2 linked regions of the Homo sapiens genome follow. The protein of the gene in region 2 purifies or fractionates together with the protein of the main gene of each other region. This does not show direct contact. Each region holds a gene or a part of one and is shown on either strand. Other genes may lie near its edges.

Region 1 (3,651 bases), 4.5 Mb from region 2:
GTCTCAAAAAAAAAATTTAAAAAATTAGCCAGGGTGCTGGTGCATGCCTGTAGTCCCAGCTACTCTGAGGCTTCAGTGGGAGGATCACTTGAGTCCAGGATTTAAAGGCTGCAGTGAGCTATGATTGTACAACTGCACTCCAGCCAGCCTGTGTGACAGAGTGAGACTGTTTCAAAAAGCAAAAAGACCAAAAACTGAAAACCTTAAAACCAAACCAGGTGTACAAATCCCAGTTTAGGCCGGGCGTGGTGACTTACACCTGTAATCTCAGCACTTTGGGAGGCCAAGGCAGGTGGATCACCTGAGGTCAGGAGTTCAAGACTAGCCTGACCAATATGGTGAAACCCAGTCTCTACTAAAAACACAAAAACATTAGCCGGGCATGGTGGCACGTGCCTGTAATCCCAGCCACTCAGGAGGCTGAAGCCAGAGAATCGCTTGAATCCAGGAGGTGGAGGTTACAGTGAGCCAAGATAGTGCCACTGCACTCCAGCCTGGGTAACAGAGTGAGGTCCCATCTCAAAAACAAACAAACAAAAAACAAATCCCAGTTCAGGCAATCTTCCTGCTGAAGCTTCAGGTCATCAGCCCCCAGATGGGCTGCAGATAAACCACTAGGCTTTCAGAACTGAGCATTTGTTTGTTGTCCTCCAGGTTAAGATGCAGTGGGGGCTGCTGGCAGTCCATGCCAGGTGCACGTGGCAACTGGCACAAGTGGCTGTGGCTGGAAGGCAGGAGACCTGGCTCCCTCTGGTGCTGCCAGCCTGGCTGTGTGCTCGGGGATGGGTCCCTTCCCTCTCTCTGTGTCAACTCCCACCCTGCACCAATCAGGGTGACTGAATGTGGGGAGGGAGGGCGATGCCCCTTAAAAGGGCTCGCTTAGAGGAGTGAATGTACCCCTGGCACCGTGGTAGCAGACAATTATTGATGTTTGCTAGTTATGGAAGGCGGGGCAGAATTAGTCACCGTGAATTAGCCCTGTGGTCAACCAGAGATGAGACCTTTGGATGGACTTGACCTCTGTGACCCCTTCAGCCTGGCCCTGGGTTCCCCCAGCCCTCTCATGAGTCCACAGTGTCCTCTAGCTTTTGCTCAGGCCAGGCTGGCCAGCCCAGCCCCCATTGCTGCAGAGTGGTCGCCAACAGAGCCCCTCCTGGGTTCCGGGCTTATCACCTGCCTCCTTCCATTTTCCTCACCACCGTCTGCCCAGGCAGGGCTTATGGGTGTCGGGGAGGTGTTGAGGGTGTCTTTGCTCTAGATGCGGTCCAGAGAGACTATGGGGTTTGCTCATGGTTACCCAGCTCATCGATGCTAGACAAGGACAAGAGCCTGGGTCTGCAGAGTGCAGGGATAAAGCCTTGAGTCCCAGCCCTGAGGGGAGGGAGGCAATTGCCAGGGCTGGCCAGCTCCTGACAGGATTGCCCCCCGCAGGTGGTACTGGCCATGCCCTACGATACGCCCGTGCCTGGCTATCGCAACAATGTTGTCAACACCATGCGCCTCTGGTCTGCCAAGGCTCCCAATGACTTCAACCTCAAGGACTGTGAGTTCATCCACTGGTAGCCAGCAACCCCAGCTTGCCCGCCGGCCACGCCCAGCGCAGGCCTTACCCTGTCCCCACTTTTGTCCCTCAGTCAATGTCGGTGGCTACATCCAGGCTGTGTTGGACCGAAACCTGGCGGAGAACATCTCTCGTGTCCTGTACCCCAATGATAATGTGCGTCACCCCCTGGGCTGGGGGCTGGAAGCCTGAGTCCTTGGCAGCAGGGGTCAGGGAGAGCTGGGGAAGGACACTTGCTGGTGCCCTAGTCACACCCAGGGCATATTGCTGGCCTTGTGCATCCTGTGCCCCCACCTCAAGTCTTTTGAGTGCAAGGACACCTGAGTCCTGAGGAAACTGGGTTAGCGAAGGGCACTTTGGAGGGGCTGTTCCCTGGCGACACCCACAACACACTCGGTTCTTGTACCCCTCTTCCTGACACTGTCTCTCGCCACTAGTTCTTGGTGGAGGAAAGGCCCCTGGGTCCCAGAGAGGGGGCCGGCTCAGGGCTCAGGGGTCCCGGTATGGGTGGGAGTCCCTCCTGGCCACACCCACCGCAGCTTTAGGCCATGCCCCCACCGCCCTGACTCACGCTGCCTCATGCTGTCCCCAGTTCTTCGAAGGGAAGGAGCTGCGGCTGAAGCAGGAGTATTTCGTGGTGGCTGCCACCCTCCAGGACATCATCCGTCGCTTCAAGTCTTCCAAGTTCGGCTGCCGTGATCCCGTGCGCACGAACTTCGATGCCTTCCCAGATAAGGTACCATGCGTGTGGAGGGCGACTCTGTGACCGGACAGTGTGTGCTAGGCCTCTCCCTCCAGCCTCGGCCTGCCTGCCCCATGTAATAGATAAGGGAGTGGAGACTGGGAGTGTGGGAGGGTCAGTTGTTCAGGATTCACAATCCACAGGCTCAGAACCTGGGCTTCCCTCCTCCTCCCGCCCCACTCCCCCCATTCCTCCCACCCCCATGAGCACCGGCCTGCCTCTGCCCACAGCCCAGTCACAGAACCGTGCTGGGCTCTCTGGGGGCCTCCAAATGGCATAGGGCAGTGACCATAGCATGGAATGTGGTTTGGAGCCCAGACTGACCCCTCCCCCTACCCCAGGTGGCCATCCAGCTCAATGACACCCACCCCTCCCTGGCCATCCCCGAGCTGATGAGGATCCTGGTGGACCTGGAACGGATGGACTGGGACAAGGTGGGCTTCAGGGCCCCTCTGCCCCATCTGATGCTCTCTGCCTCGGGGTTCCCTTCCCAGTTTGGGAGCGTGGGAGGATATGAATGGAGTGAAGGGATCAGAGCCTGAGGCCAGAGGGACCGTCCTGGAACCTGGCACTGCAGTGGGGGGGCCCACTGGGATGCGTAGTGTGTGAGGAGACCCACTGGGCTGAGGTCAGCATCCTGACTGCCCACCCCGTGTGCCAGGCGTGGGATGTGACAGTGAGGACCTGTGCCTACACCAACCACACGGTGCTGCCCGAGGCCCTGGAGCGCTGGCCGGTGCACCTCTTGGAGACGCTGCTGCCGCGGCACCTCCAGATCATCTACGAGATCAACCAGCGCTTCCTCAACGTGAGTCCGGAGGCTTGGGGGATGGTGTGGGGGTGAGGGGGGACACCCAGTCTGGGCCTGGGAGTCGGGGCGTCCAGCCAGGGCCCTGAGACTCTGGGGCAGTGGGGGCACTGGGCAGAGCTCTGGGGGTGTGGGGCTGGGGACTGGGGATGGGGGTTCCTGGGTCTGGTTCTAGCTCTGGGCTCTCTGGGCACAGCGGGTGGCGGCCGCATTCCCAGGGGACGTAGACCGGCTGCGGCGCATGTCGCTGGTGGAGGAGGGCGCAGTGAAGCGCATCAACATGGCACACCTGTGCATCGCGGGGTCGCACGCCGTCAACGGCGTGGCGCGCATCCACTCCGAGATCCTCAAGAAGACCATGTGAGCCCCGCTTTCCAGATCCCGCCCCTCTCTAGGCCCCACCCACTCCACGCCTCTGTCACACAGAAGCCCCGCCCTTCACCGACCACTCTCTGGTCTCTGGGCCCTGGCGCCTTTCACAGGTGGCGTCATTCTTACAAGCACAGCAGCCCCTTCCAGTGCCGCCCTGTCCTGAGATGA
Region 2 (3,751 bases):
GTGCCTGCCCTGAGCAGCCGGTAGGTGGCGCTGATGGGCTGGTGGTTGGGTTGGGGGAGGCTCGCATAGGGTCTCTGGAGGTCCCAGTAGGGCACTGGGGAGACCTCCCCTGATTCCCTGGAGGCAGAGCAGAGCTCTTGTCTTTGCAGGAGCTGCAGATTCTGCCTTGGGTATCTTAGAAGCTTTGTACAGGCATCTCCAGCTCAGTGGGAACCAAATGCCATCCTATCTCCCCACCTCACTGGTGTCACCATCTTCCTGGGAGCTGTCTGGATAACCCTCTCCCTGGCCCTCACCTTTAATTTGTCCCTGAGTCCCATCAGGGTCACCCTCCATCCCACTGCCATCTTCCTGGGAGCTGTCTGGATAACCCTCTCCCTGGCCCTCACCTTTAATTTGTCCCTGAGTCCTATCAATCAGGGTCACCCTCCATCCCACCACCATCTCCCACCTGAGTGAGAATGGGAACCTCCTCTCCCACTCCCTCCAATTCCCCTCCACTACAGCTGGGGGAGGCTTCTAAAATGCCAAATATAGCCCAGTTTCTGCAACTTGCAGGGTCCCCAGCCCTCGGGAGAAAGTCCAAACCCCTGACAAAGCCTGTGAAGCCCCCTGAGGCCCTGTGGGTCTGGGGCTAGCTCTGGGCTGCAGCCCTGTCTCTGGTCATAGTCCAGCATCCACCACGGTCCAGGTGCACTGAGCTGCCGGCCCTCTCTCCCCTCCGCTGGCTCCTTCCTCCTGACTGCCCGTCTTTCCCTGGCCTCTCTATGCTTCCCGCTGGCATTGACGACAGTGTCCTGGAGAGCTGGGCAGGGAGGGCTGCCTTGGGTTCCTACTGTGTGCTCCACCTAGTGCTGGTCTTGGCCCTTAGCAAGTGCTCAGTACACCCGTGTGGAATTGGGCGGTGAGGGTAAAGGGAGGAGGAGGGAAGGGCCAAGAGCTCCCTGTGCTCAATGAAGAGAGGGACTTGAGCAAGTACTCATTTTTAGTACTTCCCAAGATGTGTACAAGAGGCCTGGGGCCAGCAGAACTCCTTGCCCCTGCCCATCCCCCTCCAGTCTATGGGGTCCACCCCCAGCTGCCCAGCTGTGAGGCCTCCATGGCTCAGCTCCTCATCTATTAAGTGAGGACAGCAGTCGTCCCCCTCACAGCGAGGCCACGTGGGTTACATAACTTTTTCTTAGGGTGCCTGGCCTGCAAGAAACCCCTAAGAATGTTCTATATTCCTAGGCCCACTGTTATTCTTAATATTACCCAGGAAAGGGTGGTGAAGCGAGTAAATAAATGAATAGGTGAATGAATAAATGAATGAATGAATGGCACCCTAGCCCCACTGTCTTCTGGGTGGCTTCAGGATCCTTGAGGAGGTTGGCCGTGTAGGTTCCCCTCAGGTAGGACCTAGGTGAGCTGGGGAGTCTTAACTCACCCAGGGCAGGCCTTAAGGTTGGGCACACCCATGTGTGGGCTCTGCCCTGGCCTTAACCGAGAGAGGGAAATGTTGACGGGGAAGAAAGCCCTGCCCACCAGGCAGCCCCACCCACCTGGGCTAGCCCCACTCACAAGCAGCCCCACCCACCTGGGTTAGTCCCACCCACCAGGCAGCTCCGCCTACCTTGGCTATCCCCCTCTGAGTTCTTGCCTTGATTCTCCTGTTACTGTCCCGCGAACCCACATCCCTACAAAGCAGGAAAGTATGCTTGGGAGAGGCCAAGTGAGTGGGGAATCAGCCCAAAGCCAGGCGTCCAGGGTCTCCCTCACCTGAAGCTGACTTTTTCCCCACCTTGGACAGAGGGCGGGAGATGCCATCCCCACTGAACCCAGTGCTTTCACCAGCCATATTAGCTCCCACTCACCCCCCGTCGTGGAAGCCTCGGCCGTCACACCTGCAGGGCCGGGGCGTGCATGGCCTCAGGGATGGCCTGTTCAGCTGCTGGGTGACTCGGGTCCAGGTGCCTCACCACCTGCTGAGCTCTGTGTGATTTCTGGACACTTCTGCTCGTTGCCTTTGGGCTCAGTGAAGAGTCTGGAGTTTATCTGGAGTGAGGTGGCCGGTTCTTGGTGGGATCTGAGCAGGTAAGAAGCAGGGTCTTTCTTATGTTTTAAGGAAAGCCCTGTGGCTGCTGGGTGGGGGACCAGCTGGAGGGGCAGGAGGGCAGCAGGTGACTCATTACAAGGCTGGGGCCATCATCCTGTGAGAGCTGGGCATGACCAGTGCAGGTCAGTGGGGTTGAGGGTACAGACCAGTGGGACCCACAGACGGCTCGGGAGTGACCAAGCCTCTGCTGAGCTGCCCAGGTCCCCTCTGGTGGACACCTCCTACCCGGAGCCCCCCAAGGTGGTGCCAAAGCTAGACCACCATACAGCCAGAGGCCTCCAGGCCCTACCCACGACAGCCCAGCTGGCTTCTGCCCAGCCACCGTCACACACAGAGGGCAGCCGTCCCCATGGTCCCTAGAGGCGGTTGAGGACCACTGTGCCTGGAGTCATCTGTGGCTATAAACCAGGAGGAGAAGGCTGCCCACCCCCTGCCCCAGAGATGGGGAGGCTGGGGCCACCCGGTGGATTTGGGCAGGTCCCAGCTTCCAGGATCATGAGGTGAAAACGTGAAGGGACCCTAGAGGCCATGGGGACCCAGGCACAGAGCGGCGGCCTCTCATCCTCCCCATGGTCAAGGAGGTCAGTGCCTTCCCGGGGTGGATTACGGATGGTAGTATCTTCCTTCTCCTCAGAGTCCATTCAGGAGCAGGAAAGTTCATCTCAGACCCTAAATCCAGCCACGTCATGCCACGCTTAACACCTCTAACAACTTCCCCTGGCACTTAGGACAGCGTCTGGCTCCTTCCCTCGGCTCATGGCCCTCAGAATCTGCGTCACATACACCCCAGCTCTCCCGATAGGTCTCTGCACTCGCTGTTGCCTCTGCCTGGAACAGTCTCCCTCCTGGTGTCATTGTCTCCGTGGTGTGTCCTTCCTGACCTTCCACCTCCACCAGGTGCCGACACTTCCCTGACCCCAGTAACCTCTTCTCTTGGGTGGGTGAATGCCACCTGCTGATGTCTGATTTATTCATCGGTTTTCTTGTCTGTAGTCTGTCCCCCTTGGGGACAGGGACTCGTTGCTCATGTTCACCCGGCAGGCTGGACACTTCGTGGAGGGCTCCAAAGCCGGCAGATCCCGGGGCCGCCTCTGTCTCTCCCAGGCCCTGCGTGTTGCGGTGAGAGGAGCATTTGTGTCTCTGTGGTTTGCTGCTGGAGCTGGTGACCGGGAGAGAAACAAGGGAGACAAGGGTGCCCAGACAGGTGCGGGGCTCAGCCAGGAGGCAGAAGACGTGGACGTGTCCCGGGCCAGGAGGGTCACAGATGCACCACAAGGCACTCTGTGTGGCACTGGGAACAGGAATTCTGGGAGTCAGTCTGCAAGGGTGGTGGGCGTTGCTCACCTGGGAGAAGCCTTTAGAGTGGGCGTTGAGCAGGCCATTAGCTCGTGCCCTGAGGAGGTGCATGGGCGGCATGGGCTCTCCATGGAAATTATGTGGGCGCGAATGGATGTGGCTCTGCGCTCACCTGGGCGAGGACTTCTGGCCGGTGCCGGGGCACTCTGCATGACCCTGGCAGAATCGAGCTGCCCTGACTATGAAAGGGGAAGAAGAGCATGCCTGACCCTCCACCGGCACCCCACCCCTCACTGCTCCACCTGGGGCCTGCCTCTGCGGGTGGCTGGGTCCTGGCTGACTGTTGTGACTGTTGAGGCC

What was found. The genes of interacting proteins can lie anywhere in the genome.
Region 1: the proteins of MYEOV (region 2) and PYGM purify together in Homo sapiens (affinity purification with mass spectrometry; one large-scale study listed by BioGRID and IntAct). This does not show direct contact.

What each region holds. Positions count from the first base shown.
Region 1 is NC_000011.10:64,753,339-64,756,989, reverse strand, and holds part of PYGM (glycogen phosphorylase, muscle form), read left to right. Parts: intron 1-1,431; coding exon 1,432-1,543; intron 1,544-1,634; coding exon 1,635-1,717; intron 1,718-2,153; coding exon 2,154-2,297; intron 2,298-2,644; coding exon 2,645-2,737; intron 2,738-2,964; coding exon 2,965-3,111; intron 3,112-3,307; coding exon 3,308-3,471; intron 3,472-3,651. UniProt on the Homo sapiens protein: Allosteric enzyme that catalyzes the rate-limiting step in glycogen catabolism, the phosphorolytic cleavage of glycogen to produce glucose-1-phosphate, and plays a central role in maintaining cellular and organismal glucose homeostasis.
Region 2 is NC_000011.10:69,292,504-69,296,254, forward strand, and holds the start of MYEOV (myeloma-overexpressed gene protein), read left to right. Parts: upstream 1-1,651; 5' UTR 1,652-2,073; exon of another isoform or gene 2,074-2,729; 5' UTR 2,730-2,851; coding exon 2,852-2,992; exon of another isoform or gene 2,993-3,088; coding exon 3,089-3,751.